Linked DNA regions of Homo sapiens: region 1 is linked to region 2. A link means that fine-mapping ties the variant in region 2 to the expression of a gene that starts in the linked region. Tissue or cell type: whole blood. Region 2 holds a variant in brackets; the other region holds the start of a gene. All regions are shown on one strand. Distances are from middle to middle.

Region 1 (8,106 bases), 420 kb before region 2:
CTCAGTTTGCTGATTAGCAAATTGGGGGTAAAATTGGGGTAATAATGGTACCTGTCTTATGGGGCTGCTTTTAGGATGACACGAGATAATGCATGCCAACTGTTTAAATCAGGGATTGAAAGGCAGTAAGTATTCAATGAATGGGGCTCAGAAAGTGTTCAGTGAATTTGCTGCAAACCACAAAGCTAGGTAAGTGATGGAGATGGGGTTCTAGCACCTGATTAAAGCACAGTCTGGTCACTTCATCTGTTAACATTGGGTAGAAACAGTCAGAAGAGGGACAAGTCTAGGGTACAGTTATGATATGAGCTTGGTTTTGAAATATGGAGACATTGATGGGGCTGGGAGGGGATGTCTAGGAGGTAGTTGGACACACAGGACTGAACTTAACAGAAATCTTGGCTAGAGATGTCCTTTTACCCACAGTCATCCCTCACAATGTATGTGAAGTTATAGTCATCAAGAGTGTACTACCTAATAGTCAAGTAACTGACAGATGGTGTTTAATAAAATTGTGTGACCAAGATTATTGTAAATTCTTTAAGTGGTTTTAGTCAGATTTTTATGTTTGACTATTGATCTCTCTTGCCAAAAAATTTTTATGATGCCATAGGATTGTTAACTGTAATGAAAAGCCCATATTTCAGAAACATAAAAGCCATCTCCTAACCATATGAAGTTTAAAGATTTCTGCACTAAAAGCCACCCCATTAAGAAGTTAATTAACCCTCAGTCAAAATTTCTAAACTTCATCTCCTTCAACTGAAAGCAGTTTTTCAACTCTTTTAATATGCTGAATTTGTTTGTTTAACATTATTTAAGGAAGAGATTCCTATTATAGGTTGTGTCACAAGTTGAATGGGGAAAAAAAAACTTCAGTGCTCCTCAAGTTCAATCTTATTTGCTTTCTGGCACCACCACCTACTCTTGGCCTCCCATCAGATACTTTACCACACTGTTAATGTGAAGTTGCCTGTTTGTATGTCAGAAGCTTAAACCTAAATCGAAAAAAAAAAAAAAAGTGTATTTTAGATCAACTGGCTACAAGTTTATGAAGACAACACAACTGTGTATAGCAGAAGATAGCAAACTGTGGTTCACAGATCAAATCTGGCTTGTTGCATGTTTTTGTATGGCCCATGAACTAAGACTAGTTTTTACATTTTTAAACTGCTGAAAAATATCAAAATAAAGATAACATTCCATGCTATATGAAAACTGTAGGAAGTAAAAATTCCATTTTATGGGAACACAGCCATGCTCATTCATTTATGCATCATTTATAGTTGTTTTCATTCTACAATGGCAGAGTTGACTATTTGCAACAAGGACTGTGTATGGTGTTTTCAATGCTACACAGTGCTCTCCAGCAACCCACTAATCACGAGGATGAGATTACAACTCCACAGCATTTAAAGTGCATATCTCTCTCTATGGTAACATTTAAAAAAATTACCAGTGCTATAGCCACCATGTCAAAAAGAAAAGAAAGAATAGTGGGCTCCAAATGTCATGCTTCTAAGGCACAGTGGAGTGTGTATTGTTTGTTACCAAATTAAATAGCACTATGGTTTAAATGTGACCCCCCCCAAAGTTCATGAGTTGGGAATTTAATCCCCAATACAGCAACAGTGTTGGAAGGTGGGGCCTAATAAGATGTAATTAGTAGATCATGAGGGCTCTGCATAAATAGATTAATGTTGTTATCGTAGGAGTGGGTTAGTTATTGAGGGAGTGGTTAGTTATTGTGAGAGTGGGTTTGTTATAAAAGTGAGTTTGGGCTTCTCTTGCTCTCTGGCTCTTGCCCTGTCACCTTCCACCACGGGATGGCACAGCAAAAAAATGCCCTTGCTGGATGTTGGCCCCTTGATATTTAACTTCCCAGCCTCCAGAGGTGTGAGCCAAATAAATTTCTGTTCATCATAAATTACACAGTCTGTAGCATTCTGTTATAGCAGCACAAAACAAACAAAGCAGAGGAGAAAGCATTGTGTTTATTACATGTTGACACTCCAAACAATATAATAGATTAAGCACTCATCACATCTTTTCCAACTTACACAAAAGCAATGACAAGAAAAATTAGAAAATTTAAAACAGAATATCTCATCACAGCACAATTTCTTTAAAATAATAAAAAGTGAAAATGAGACTACAACCAGAATAAGTTTCCAAGTGGCTTATTTGTTATGCAAGCAAGGCAAAATATTTTATTGATGTTAAGTTCATTAAATCATGTTTGATTATAGCAGCAGATGAAATATATCCAGTGAAAATAAATTAGTTTAAGACTTTTAGCCTTTTGGTGACACTGGTTGCTTGGTTGAGAACATTGACAGAAGCATCAATAGTGAATTTTAAAATGACTTCTAGTGGTTTTCCTTAGTTCTTGTTGACAAATATTACCAATACAGCTCAGTTGTTGTTTATTTGAGAAGTCAATGCTGAGTTCGAAGTGAATGAAGAAATAGCTTCTATGAAGAGCCTGTGTAGAAGAACTATAGGCAAGATTACTTTAAAAGAAAATGAGAAAACACTAATTCAACACAACCTGAAGTGGAATCTGCTAAGATGTGTTGCTAGTGTTCATGGTAAAAAAAATATCTGTGGAGCAGAAGAAGGCTTTTGGAGCAAATTTAGAAGGTGGGTGAAAATATAAGATATTTAAAGCTTATGATTATTAATTGTAATATTCACCATCAGGTACTTTGTGGAAAATATCTAAATCTGTGATGTTATTGAATCAGTGGTATCAAAGGTTAATTTTATTAGCTTTTCTGGACTTTTAACCATTGCCCATTTGGTAAACATTTTTTTCAGAAATAGAAAGTAAATATCCTGTCAGATCAGCATTAACATATGAATATTTGAATCAATTTCGATAAGGCACATTAACTTTGAACTCCAATAAGGTGAAATGTGATATCATTCCCAAAATGTATTTTTTTTTGCCTTACTAAGCTAGTATTACAAAAAATACTCATTCACATGATATTTTGAATTTTATTAATAAAAAAAATTTAGAACCTTTTTTCTTTCTTTACATAAGTACCTGCATCCTACATATATACTTGATTTTGCTTTCTGGACTGCAAAGACTAAAATACTATCTGTGACTTTACAGAAAATGTTTGGCATCCTCTATTGTATAGTCCCAATTTATAACATTGTTGTGATAGCTAGTTTTGTGAGTCAACTTGGCAAGGCTATGGCCCAGTTATTCAATCAAATACCAATCTTCACAATCTTCACAGGGGTTGCTGTGAAGTACTTTGTAGATGTGATTAACATCTACCATACATTGAATTTAATTAAGGGAGATTATCCTCAATACATTTGGTTGGTGTGATCCAATTAGTTGACAAACCTTATGAATAGAACTGAGGTTCCTTGAAAAAGAAGAAATTCCTCCTGAGGACATCTGCCTGTGAGTTTCCAAACTGCTCTTCCTGACAGCCCCACAATCGCATTAGCCAATCCCCAATCTCTCTCTGTCTCTCATATACATATATATGTATGTGTATATATATATATATATATATGCATATATGTATGTGTATATATATATGCATATATGTATGTGTATATATATGCATATATGTATGTGTATATATATGCATATATGTATGTATGTATGTGTATATATATATGCATATATGTATGTATGTATATATATGTATGCATATATATAAAATCTCCTACTCTGGTCATCTGGTGGAACCCTAATACCACTGCTGACTGTATAAGACATTATTACCTAATTTGTGCTGCTAGAAAACAGAAAAGAAAATAACTGCAGATAAAACAAAATCAATAATTTTTTGTTGCTCCAGTTCAGCTGTGATATTGCCTAATCTATCTTAATGACTCTCCAGTGTAAGGCAGAAAGGGGTAGTGAGAGTCATGAATAAAGAAAGAAAACTCAGCAAAACTTAAATTCAGCCTTATCACTGTGGATCAGACTTTTTTTTTTTTTTTTTGGACAGAATCTGTTCTCAGAGCAAAAATGAGATTTTTCGAGGAAATGTCTCCATTAGCCTAACTCTAGGGCTCTTTTCCTGGGTCCCACTGTTGCTGGCTGTGACAGCACCCTTCACCTTGCAGTGATGTTGGTAAATAGTGTATTTACGTATTTTCAGAGTAGAGCTTCTAGAGCTTACATCAGATTTTCCAACGGGTTTGTAGCACCAAAACGATAAAAAGCTGTAAATGGGCCAGGCACGGTGGCTCACACCTGTAATCCCAGCACTTTGGGAGGCTGAGGCTGGCGGATCACCTGAGGTGGGGAGTTCGAGACCAGCATGACCAACATGGAGAAACCACGTTTCTACTGAAAATGCAAAGTTAGCCGGGCATGCTGGTGCATGCCTGTAATCCCAGCTACTGGGAAGGCTGAGACAGGAGAGTCGCTTGAACTCGGGAGGCGGAGGTCGCGGTGAGCCGCGATCGCGTCGTTGCACTCCAGCCTGGGCAGCAAGAGAGAAACTCGAAACTCCGTCTCACAAAAAAAAAAAAAAAAGGCTGTAAAGGATCCACCTCCAGGTAAACATTTACTCTTCCATGTCACCTGCTGTGTACATTGTCTCTCTAACCCTCACAATAATCATATGAAGTAGGTATTAGTATCCCATTTCACAGATGAGAAAACTGAAGCTTAGAAAAATGAAGTCATTTGTCCCCGTCTGGATTCGAACCGAGATCTGACACCAAAGCTCATGCTGAGGGGAGTTAAGGAGGTTTGTTCAGTCCCTAGGCACGGCAATCAGGAAACTCTCTGCACTTGCGGTGGTGGTCTGGCGAGCCCCAGGTGGGGACTGGCCTCTGCTCCCTCGCCTGGGGAGGAGACAAAGTGGGAGTGGTCCCCAAGTTTTGCGTGAAGTGGGGTGGGGTGGCGTGTCTTAGCCTACGGGGCACCAGCCTTCTAGTGTGCCCCTGCCCAACGGGAGGGAGGAGGGAGCGGGGAGCCCCGGCGAGGGAGGAGAGGGCGGGCCCTGAGAGGAGTTTGAAAAGAGGAAGGAAGTGGGGCCCTGCGGCGCCCAGCCACCCCCTGACGGCTTCCCCACGGGAGGACGCGAGGCCCCGGCCCAGCCATGGCCCCCTGGCGCAAAGCTGACAAGGAGCGGCACGGCGTGGGTAGGTGCGGGCCCCAGGGCGCGGCAGGGAGCGGGACAGGTGGCGGGAGAGCCGCGAGCAGGAGGATGCTGCGGGGCCGGCGGCGCGGGGTGGGCAGGGCGCGCTGCCTGCAGGTCAGAGGGCGCAGCCTGCGGCGGGGCCTCGGGGCGGGAAAGCCGAGGCTCGGGGAGAGGACGGCGGGACCCCACCCCGCAGGCTAAGCACAGCCCTCGCCCTCTCGCCTGCTGAGGGAACCTTAGACATTTCCGAGATAGGGTCAAGACCTGCGCTTGACAACTCAGTTCTTCGCGCCAAACTCGGCGTCCCCAGGAGTGCCCCAGCTCGCCGCGTGGGAGACTTGGCCTTGTAGAGGGAGCTCCACTCTCCCCTGGCTCAGCCTTGGCCTGCCCACCATGCATACTTCCACCCCCTCCAAAGCGACACCCATTTGCCTGCTTCCCCTGTCTGTTCCTCCTGGGTCAGATGACTCCTGATTTGGCAGGGCATCCAGAGGGCAGCTCAAGCTTGGGGGAATGGGGCTGGACGGTGGGGTTCTCTACTCAGCCCCCCAGAGCCTCTGGGGAAAAAGGCTCCCGCCAGGTGGTCTTAGGGTAACCAAGAAGCTAGCTTCGTCAGCCTCAGCCATCTAAACTCCCAGAAGCCTCTGCCTGGAGCTCAGGGGCGGAAGTGGTGGCTGGGGGAAGGGAGGCCTCAGGTGCTGCTACTCTAAGTGTCATCCGTGGTGCAATCTCCATGGACTCACTGTGGTTTTTAAACTTAAATATCAAATAAAAAGTCACTCTGGAGCTTCCTACACAGGCGGATACCAGACACCATCTCAGAGATAAATATTTCGCAGGTGAGGCATTGGAAGACCCAAACACCCAGAGGGATTTGATGCAGGGGGTCCCCAGGCCACTGTTTGGGAAACACTGCCCTGGAGAGATCAGCAGTTATCCACTCAATTACTGGGTACCGGGCACTGTGGGGTCATTTTGATATAAATGGTCCCCATCCAGAGAACAAATAATAATTCATATCTCAAGGGGCAGTTACAAAGTAAGGAAGGATACAGCTTCTGCCCTTGAGGAGTTATGTGTAAGGCTAGAGGCTTGGACTGGGAAGTCAGAACTGAGTTCAAATCAGGGTCTGTTTCCTCGTCTATAAAGTGGAAGTAATAATAATGCAGGTCTCATGAGACTCTTGTGAGGATTGAATGGGGTTATGCATGGAAAGCATTTAGTAGTGTGCTGGCTCAATAAGAGTTAGTGATTCAGGTCCAGGGTCTTACCTAGCAGCTTCAGAACCAAGAGACACCAGCACCAAGATGCACCCTAATGCCAGATTCAGGACAGTCATGCCTTATGAGACTGTAGTATTTCATGGTTTGCAAGACCAAAGGTCATGCAATCTCTGTCTGACTTCAGAACCCCCATGTGAGGCAGTGTATTATTCCCAACTTACAGGTGAAGTAACCAAGTTTACATCACTTGGAAGCAATGGAGCGGGCCTTAAATTCAATTGTCTTCAGACCCTAGGCCCTTTGCATGGCACCAGAAAAGCATCTAGAAGGGGAACATCATGGGTAAAGGCAGGGAACTGGCATCCCTGAAGTGTGTGGGTCAAACAATAAGTAGTCTGTTTTGGTTTTAGTATTGCTTTTAGTGTTAAAAAAATTTCAGAGGTAGATTATGGCTAGATTGTGAAGGGCTTTGAGTGCCAACCTTCAAAGTTTGGATTTCCTTCTCTGAGCACTGGAGGTTTTGAGCAGTGTCATCTGGAAGAAGTTAAATAGTTAATTAGGATAGGAGTGGGGAATTGGACTTAGAATAGAAGGAAAATGGGTAACAGTTTTACCTGTCTGCTGACTGCCTGGTTAATCTAGCAGGAGGTCACTTATAATCAACATTGCCTGTTAACCTTTACTAGGTTAATCCACTCTGCCTGAGGCTCTTGTCAGTGAAGAGAGCTTTCTCCTTGCAGGAGAGAGGAAAGGGCAGAAAAGAAGGAGGTAGAAAGAGAAACTAACAGTATCAGTTAGGGTTAAGTGTGACAAAGGGTGACAGAAAACCTCCAAAATTGTGGCCTAACCAAGCTGCAAGTTTATTTCTGTCTCTCATGGAAAGCTCAGAAATGGTCTGGGAAGAGGTGGTAAGGTGGCTCATTCTATATCTCACACTGTATCCTTGGCATGTGACTTCTGCCTCCTGAGCCACATAGGCTGCTTAAGCTTCGGTGATCAGGTCCACCTTCCAGCCAGCAAAAAGGATGCAGGGAAAAAGAAGGTCATGGCTTTTCCCTTTAAAGACATTTTCCTGAAGGCACACTTGACATTTCTTCTTACATTACATCCTATTGGCAAAAATGTAATCACATGACTGACTATAGCTGCAAGGGAAGCTAGGAAATGTAGTCTGTAATGTAGGCAGCCATGTACCCAGCTAAAAATTAGGAGTTCTCTTCATAAGTAAGGAGAGGAGGAAGAATATTGAGGATGATATATTAGTTTGCTCAGGCTGCTGTAGCAAAATACCACCAACTGGGTGGCTTAAACAACAGAAATGTATTTTCTCACAGTTCTCGAGGCTGGAAGTCTAAGATCAAAGCACCACCAGGGTTGGCTTGTCTCATGGCCTATCTCCATGGTTTGCAGATGGCTGTCTTGCTGCCTCTTCATTGCTTTCTGTGCAGGCACACCCTTGCTGTCTCTTCCTCCTGTCATGAGAACACCGGTCATATTGGATTAGCATCCCACCCTAAAGGACTCATTTTAACTTAATAATTCCTTTATCTCCGAATATGCACTTATCTCCAAATAGGAGTACCTTCTGAGACACTGATGACTGGGACTTCAGCATAAGAATTTTGGTGGGGACACAAATTCATGACAAATAATCTGTGGTCTCTGGCATGGTATTTTGGGACTATAAAGAGGGCTTCAAGGCAGGAGTCCTGAGATAAAGGGTGAGGGTAGAAAAGAGTTTTGTTTACCCT
Region 2 (8,106 bases):
GCCAACACCAGTGGCTAAGATCAGTAAACATGACCTAGAACCTTCTCTAAAACAGGGGTCTGCAAACTTTCTGGAAGGGATCAGATGGGCAGTATTTGAGTCTTTGTGGCCCATGCAGTCTCTGTCACAACTACTCAGCTCCGCTGTTGTAGTGGGAGAGCAGCCACTGAAAACCCAAAAATGCGCGGGTATTGCTGTGTTCCAATAAAACTCTATGGACACTAACATTTGAACTTTCTATCATTTTCACGTTACAAAATACTCTTTTTCCCTCCATTGAAAACTCTTCTTAGCCTCTGGGCCTTACAAAAACAGGCAGTGAACCAGATTTGACCGCAGGGCCATAGTTTGCCAACCCCTGCCCTAGACTTAATCCAGAGTGATTTTCTTCCCAGAGCAGGCTGTTGGCCACATGGCTTGAGAAAGAAAATGGTTTTCCTGAAAATCATAGAAATACCTTCACTGAGATTTATTCATTCGTGTTAAACATTGCCATCTCTTAAGAAGAGAAATCTATTTAAGGCAGAAACAGGCATCAGAAGTAAATCAATGAAACACCTAACTTCTTAGCATAGAGTAAGTTCATCAGACAGAGGCAATTCAATTTAATTTGGAACTAGGTTTTGGTCATTTCTTATGTGTGAAAGAACCATAGTCTCTGCCATGAAAAAGCTCACAATCTGGGCAGGATGGAGGGTGTGAGGTGGGCTGGGGGGATGAGGAAGCCTACAAGGAGCTGGAGGGTGGATCCTAAGAGAAGCAAAGACGAAGGCTGTGGAAAGCCAAAGGAAGGAAAACAACTCCTAACTGGGGGGTGAATTGTTTTCATGGACTGTGGTATTTGACATCTGTCCAAAGGGTTCACAAGAGAGGGATGCTGATAAGGGAAAATGTTCCAAGGAAAGGAAGTAGTAGGATCCATTGGATATCCAGATAATGATGAAAAAATGGGTGAAGGCCATACTGGCCTAGCTTTGAATGCTAGCCAGAGGAGTTCTTGATTCCTTAGTTGGCAGACATGTCAGGCCCAGGAAAAGATTTTTTGGAGTCATGGTGGTCATTGGGTAGAATAGAGGGAGGAAAGACCTTGAATACCTAAATAAAAGACGTGGGTAAAGAAGAAATGGGAGGTAGGGAAAGGGAAGAGGGGTCAGGAGTGGGACCAGTGACCGCTGACTTTTTTCATTCAGTTTGCCATATTGTCAGCTTAAAAGGACTAAAGACAGACCTAGAAGAGGCATGACAAGGGTCTGACCCACATAGTGCTTTTCCAATATCTGTGCCTGTTGCAGGCATCACTAATCCACCATGGGACTCTTTTCCACTGTCTGAACACAGCTCCTTACCATCCTGCCATAGGCAGTTGCTTTCAAATTTTCAGAGTTGGGGTGCAAAATGACATTTATTTGCATATTCTATAGCAGTGCTTCACAAATTTTAGCATGCATATGTTTCACCCAAGGATCTTTTACAGATCCGGACTCAGTTGGTTCTCAGATAGTCCAGAGTCTCCACTTCTAACAAACTTACGGGTAATGCTGACACTACTGGTCAAAGGGCCGCCTTTGAGTAGTGAGTCCAGAGTGAAAGAATTCTGAGCTTAGAGTTAGAAGACCTAAATACAAACTCGGATCTGTTCTTACAAGTTGTGTGACCTTCAACAAGTGGCCTGGCTTCTCTGGCCTCGAAGGGGACAATTTAGGTTAATAAGGCAACTCAGTGGAATTGAGGAGATCAAATGAGATCATGGGAAGATGTACTCTGCAATTGATTTGAGAGCTATAAATTCATTCAATAGTATTATTATTAATGATAATATAGCAATGATGATGATTAAACACCACTAGACAACTCTGTTTGTAGGGGCTGAGCCCTGGCATAAGGTTGCAGGGTGACAGCACTGATAAGGACCTCAGTGACTAACTAGTCATTAGTGCCTAGTGGGCAGCCAGCAACCTGAGGTTCATCATTCAGTAAAAATGTGGCCCCATAAAGGCTGGCCTGGAAGGTCTCAGCAAGGACCAGCTATACTTAAAACTGTCCCCGCAGCCAACAGATATAAGTCCTTAACTACAGGGATTCCAGATATCCAGTGCTTCACTGTCCAGCCTGTCTTGGATGAACATCCCAGGTTCAAGAATAAGCCAGTGCCTGACCAGATTATAAAGTAAGACTCGTTGTCCACAGGGAAGAAGGATGGGGAAGAGAACCCATTGGGGCCACCAAACTGAGCTGGTGGCAGAACAGACCCCAGTGTCTTTCTAGTTCCTTCTCTATCTTAGCCAGTTTTTCCCCCCTTTTCCTCTTGGGCAAAGAATCACCCTCCAATTAGCTGGGCTCTGCCCCTGACAAGGCTGAAGCCAGGAAGGATGGGAGAGCCAGGGTTATGGCTCAGCAAATCCTCAGCAAGCATCGAGCATTTGCTCAACTGGATGCAGTCAGCCTATTTGTTGCTCAGGTTGATCTCAGAGTGGCCCCAGGGAGTCCACAGACAGAGTGTGGCTGGGCAAGTGATAGGCAGGGTGGAGACAGGGGGCCTTGTCCATGCTGAGCACATGCTCCCAGAGGGACATCTCCTCAGCATTTGTGAAGGTTGTACATTGACAATGGTGTGTTCAGGCTCTGATAAAGGAACAGTAGAGGAAGTGCCGTGAAGGCTGATGTCCACCTGTTCTAGATCAGATTGCAAAGTCACTGATGAGGCCACAAGGTGGGGCCTCTGTGGGACCCAAGGCTGTATGCCTCCCAGCTGCCCAGCTCATTCCCCCTACCCCATGCCCAGGTTGTAATGGAGCACTTGAGTGTCTTAGAGTAGGTCCTCCCCTCTGGATGGGACAGTCAGAAACAGGATCTGCTTTGCAAGATGAAGGACCCTTCAGGGAGAGGCAGCCCCTCCCAGCAGCCTCACGAAGTGCCACAGCAGAGCAGGTGGAGCTCAGCTTGGGTCTTAACCTCCCCTCACCTTCTCACCTTCTCAGACAGGCACCCATGAGCAGGGGACAATAACTGTGCAGCTAGCACGGTGTTCTGCTGGCCCTGAAGTTAGAATCTCACCAACGATTCAGGGAGACTGATTTAGGGGGTTGGCTGGGACACCTAAAGAAATCCTTTGAGGACACCTCTGGGAAATTAGGCTCAGACCTCAGCTCCTTTGTTGCAGATCACAGGAAATCATGACCTAGGCCATCAATGTTAGAATTCCAATTGCCTGGATACTCTAGGGGTACTATGTTCTCAAAGGGGCACAAGACCAGTCTACCTTCTAAATTGCCTTGTCAGGAAAGCCTGTGCAAAAGTCACTCTTACGGAGCCCAGAACACAGACCTTGATTTTAAATGCACCACAAGGGACTCTGCCAGGCCTGAAGTTTACTGTAATGAACCTCCCTGGACAGTGCAGGGTCAGATCGGGTGTCAGCAGCCGGGGATGGCTACCAGGAGCCTCAGCCTCTTCCTGTCTTTCAGCTTCTACAAATCCAACTA[C/T]GTGCAAAGGTTCCACTACTCCCGGCCCGTGCGCAGGGGGACCGTAGACCCAGAGAATGAGTTTGCTGTGAGTATCTTCCCTACCCTTGATCATTCCCTGGAGCCACCTGGAGGAACCAGAGCATGCATCGGCCAGCCTCAGAATGGGAAGGAACTTGATAGAAAGCCAGAGAAAATAAAGCCAACCTCCATGGATACCATGACGTCCGTTCCCCAATCTCTTCCATTAGGGCCTGTGTCCTTATTTCTTGAGCCTTTTTCCCCTTAATACAGAACCCAGGCCTCATGTCAGAGGCACTTTTTCAACCACAGGGCATTCAGGCATTGCCAGCACGTAGAAACCCTCAGGCTAAGAAGGGGTGTTGATAAAATCAAACCTTCCAGCAAACACCAGTAAGAAGCCACAGCAATGTAGTCATCACTGTCCCCTGAGTGCTAGTCTCCTCTGTGTGTGTCCAGCTAGGATTCAAACAAGACTGGATTAAGGAGGTGTCTCCAAGTCTCAGCTCTTTGGCCTGGACAGTAATTCTTAATATTTTTGGAGCCACTGCCTCTTTGAGAGTCTAATGAACACTGGGAACCCTTCCCCGAGAAAACAAATGGACACATTCAATATTGCCTAAAAATTCAGACTGCTAATAAACCCAGGTTAGTACTTACTTGGCCTAAGTCCAGGGAGAGCTTACACTTAATGTTGGGAAAGAATTCTTAAGGGTAAGGTGAGAGCGTGTTTCTGGGTCTTGCAATATTTATTCTGCTTTCGGGTAGATGGGAGGCCCGGGGACCTGGCTGGGTTTCTGCCAAGCTTCTCCGATACCCAGGTTTCATAAATGTGTTTGTTGCTTTCCTGCCCTTGCCACCCCTCTGCCCACGGACAGTCCATGTGGATTGAGAGAACCTCCTTCGTGACTGCATACAAGCTGCCGGGGATCCTGCGCTGGTTTGAGGTGGTGCACATGTCGCAGGTGAGTCTGGGACATTCGTGGCAGGGCCACCCTTCCTCCGATGGGCAGGGCACAGCCAGTCTCCAAAGGCCCCTTTGACTTTAAAAAGGAGACATGTTTTTCTTTGAAGCTGCTGTGTGAGTCCCAGAATTCCCATGCAGGCAGCATTCAGAATAGTGCCTTTCAGATTTTTTTTTTTTTTAAGCATCAGATAACCTTTTTGTTCCCTGCAAATGAAACTTTCCATGGCCTCCAGTAATAAAGCTGATGAATGGGGAGCTTCTGTTGGGTGGGTGGGGTGTAGCAGAGGGCCTGGAACACAATCATTAATCATTTCCATCTCCCCCTCATACTCCTCTCATCACAGCACCCCCTTGGGGGCACCTGTGCAGTATCCCAATATGAATCCATTTTATAGTTGGAAAAACTGAGGCTCAGAAGGGAGAGATCATTTGGCTAGAATCCAAATGTTTGATCTCCCTTGTGCAGATAACACCTATTTTGCTTCTCAGCACAGCTTAGGGTCTCCACGTCCTCAGACAGCTAAAGATCTTGCAGTCCCCAAGATACAGAGGAATGGTCAGTGTGGTTGTGAGGAAACCTTGTAAATGGACATATTTAGGATGTCTTATTTATTTATTTATTCATTCATTCAGAAAATACTTAATGTGTACCTAACATGTTAGGCACTGTTGTAAGACCTAGAGATTCTGCAATGGAGCTTCCATTCTAGTGGGAAAGACGGACTAAAAAGTCAAAGTAAATATATGACAGGTGATAACTGTGATGGAAAAAATTAAAGCAGAAAGGTGATATATGAGGGATTGCTATTTTAAGTAGGGTAGTCAGAGAATGCTTCCCTCTATACTGGCTGTTGAGGAGAGGCCTGGAGGAAATGAGGAAGGGGTCCATGCTGACATTGAAGAGAGAGACATTCCAGCAGAGGAGACAGCAAGTGAAAAGCCCTGGGCCCAGAGTATGCTTGTGTCCAGATCAGAACAAGTGAGGGTGAGTAACAGTCATCTGATACCAGATCATGTAGGACCTTGTAGACCACCATAAGGACTTTGACTTTCCCACTGAGTGACACAGAGCCATGAGCAGAGGAGGGACGTGGTCTGACTTGCGTTTTCAAGCTATTGTATCAGACGATAGCATTGAGACCGTTTCACTTCTACCCTTAATGCCCCTCTCTTTTCAGCGAACCCAGCAGCTCAGTAGCCCTTCAGCCTCCTTTTTATAGGCATGACCTAGACCTTGGAAAAGTATAACAATGATGGTGATAGCAAAAAACATTGTTTTGAGTATGGGCTCAACTGTTCATATGCATGATCTCATTTCAACCCCTCAGCAACCCTGTGAGGTAGATATTATTATTCTTCCCATTTTACAGATGTGGGAACTGAGATGCAGAGTTAATTAGTGCATTGTTCAAGGTTAGTAAAAGAGATAGGGTATGACTTTAACCTCCCCTGTCAGGCACCTGGCTTGGACTCTTTATCTTTTTTTCCTTAAGAAAAAGAAGAGCCCACCCCAGCCCACCCCAGCAAGTAGTACCCCCAAAAGGAAGGAAGTGTCTGTGCCCTTGCTTCATGGCACATAAGTTTCAACAAGTGCCCCAGGTGCTGTGTCAAAGGTTTATAGCTATATCTCATTTAATTCTCATAGACCCCAGTGAGGTACATACTATTATGAGCCCTATTTAGGAGGTAAGGAATCAGAAACTTTCTGTCAATCTGTAGCCTCTGCCCATTAGCCCTGACTGAGCCCTGTCACCTGGTGGTGCTCAGCAAGGCGCCTCTTCTGTAGTCATTCCTGCCAAACTGTAGCAAACTGAGAGAGCCCATCCCTGTACTTCCCATTCCCTCAGCTACTGTGTGTCAGCCCAAAGCACTTATCTCCTAATAGCCTACATAATTTTCTTGTTTATTTTTAATATTAAGAGAATATTAAATATAACAGTAGACCATAAGCTCCACTAGAATATAAATTCCAAGAAGACAGATATTTTGTCTATTTTATTTTCTGCCATACCTCCAAGTGCTAAGAATAGTCCCTGGCCCACAACTGATGCTAACTAAAGAATACTTACATAAATTAATCAGTCAATCAATATGCAGACACCCGTAATGTCTAAACCGGTTACCTTATTTTATAAACTCAGCGTTTTGAAGTTGGGAAAGAAATAGTCAAGATTTTTGGCTTGTTTCTTTCATCCCGATGGCTTCTCATAGATGGCATTGGGGAAACCTTCAAAAAGTTGGCCAGAGTGAATTTATCTTTAATGGCCTCTCTCAGATGAGTTACCAGGAATTTCAGGGTGTCTCAGATGCAAAAGTTGAATGCTCTTCTAAGTGACTTCATTTCCAAAGATTGTTTTTGTGTTATATGAATTTGTATCTTGTTCTTGGTTATTTCCTCCATAAATTATCATGACTACAGTAATGTTTATATAGACAGGCATTTTCTGATGAGCTTCAAGTATAAGTTCTGCCTATTGGGGTTTTATTTTGTTCTTGTTCTTGGCCCTGAGAAATGGAGACTTTACAAGGAGCCCTGATCTAGGGGTCAGAGATCCAAATTCAACGTGGTCACTAATGAGCTATGTATGTTAGATAAGGACTGTATATCTCTGGGTCTTAGTTTTAATCATCTGTAAATAGGAATTGCAAAATGATGGAACTTTAGGGAGCTTAAAGGGACCTTAGGTGTCTTTTAGTCCTAAAGCTATAAACTGGAATACCTTCATAGCCTAGTAAGGGCTGTGGCAAAGTGCAGTAGCAACAGCCCCCTCCTCCATCTCTGTTGAATTACATTTTTAAAGGCTAGAATCAATGTGCTAGCTAAGTGACAGACCTCCGCCAGCCTGGTTTGGCTTGCAGTTCTCCAAGTTTTTTGTCCTGATTCTTCCTGGTTCTTGTCTACCTGCATTATTTTGTATATGAGAAAACTGAGGCCTAGCAATGGGACTTGAACTGCCAAAGCAATTTGTGGCAGAACTCAGAGGTCATGAGAGAGCACCTGTCCTGTGCAGCTCATAGGATTCCTGGGTAGACTTAAGAAGGCAATATTGGTAAAATGGCTTTGAAAAATATGAAATGCTGGGGTGGGCGTGGTGGCTCATGCCTGTAATCCCAACACTTTGGGAGGCTGGGGTGGGCGGATCACAAGGTTAGGAGTTCAAGACCAGCCTGACCAACATGGTGAAACCCCGTCTCTACTAAAAATACAAAAATTAGCTGGGCATGGTGGCATGCACCTGTAATCCCAGCTACTCAGAAGGCTGAGGCAGGAGAATCACTTGAACCCGGGAGGCGGAGGTTGCAGTGAGCCGATATCATGCCATTGCACTCCAGCCCGGGCAACAGAGCAAGACTCCATCTAAAAAAAAATTAAAAAAAGAAAAATATGAAATGCCACCTAATTGCCAGGGATTGAGATCACTTTCTCTTTCATCTTATGTTCCCTCACCCATCCACACACACTTTTACATTTTTTTCCAAAGCACCCTCCCCTGATAATTCATTTTCTCTTCACAGCAAGCCTGGCAAGAGTTACTATGTCGATAAAGAAACTGAGGCTCAGCTTAGGGAAAAGACCAGAGATTTGAGGGCTAGATTAAGTCCCAACAGCCCGTTGATAGCAAGTGTGGTATCAAAGCTTGATTTACGTGTAGTAGA

The links. PIP is the estimated chance that this variant, and not a neighbour inherited with it, causes the effect.
Region 1: it holds the start of DOCK2, and the variant in region 2 is fine-mapped to the expression of DOCK2 in whole blood (TOPMed, PIP above 0.99). The same link has a PIP of 0.9 or more in blood mononuclear cells, lung and tibial nerve.

What each region holds. Positions count from the first base shown.
Region 1 is chr5:169,632,237-169,640,342 of GRCh38, forward strand. DOCK2 (dedicator of cytokinesis 2) reads left to right here and starts at 5,039. Exons shown (of 52, transcript NM_004946.3): 1 at 5,039-5,133. The coding sequence starts at 5,091. RefSeq lists silencers at 4,907-5,386, 5,417-5,476 and an enhancer at 5,737-5,836.
Region 2 is chr5:170,053,220-170,061,325 of GRCh38, forward strand. DOCK2 (dedicator of cytokinesis 2) reads left to right here. Exons shown (of 52, transcript NM_004946.3): 42 at 2,086-2,167; 43 at 3,465-3,549; 44 at 4,361-4,447. Among named protein-coding and RNA genes, the nearest start is that of MIR378E, 29 kb to the left of the region's middle. The variant C/T (reference allele first, on the strand shown) is at 3,483.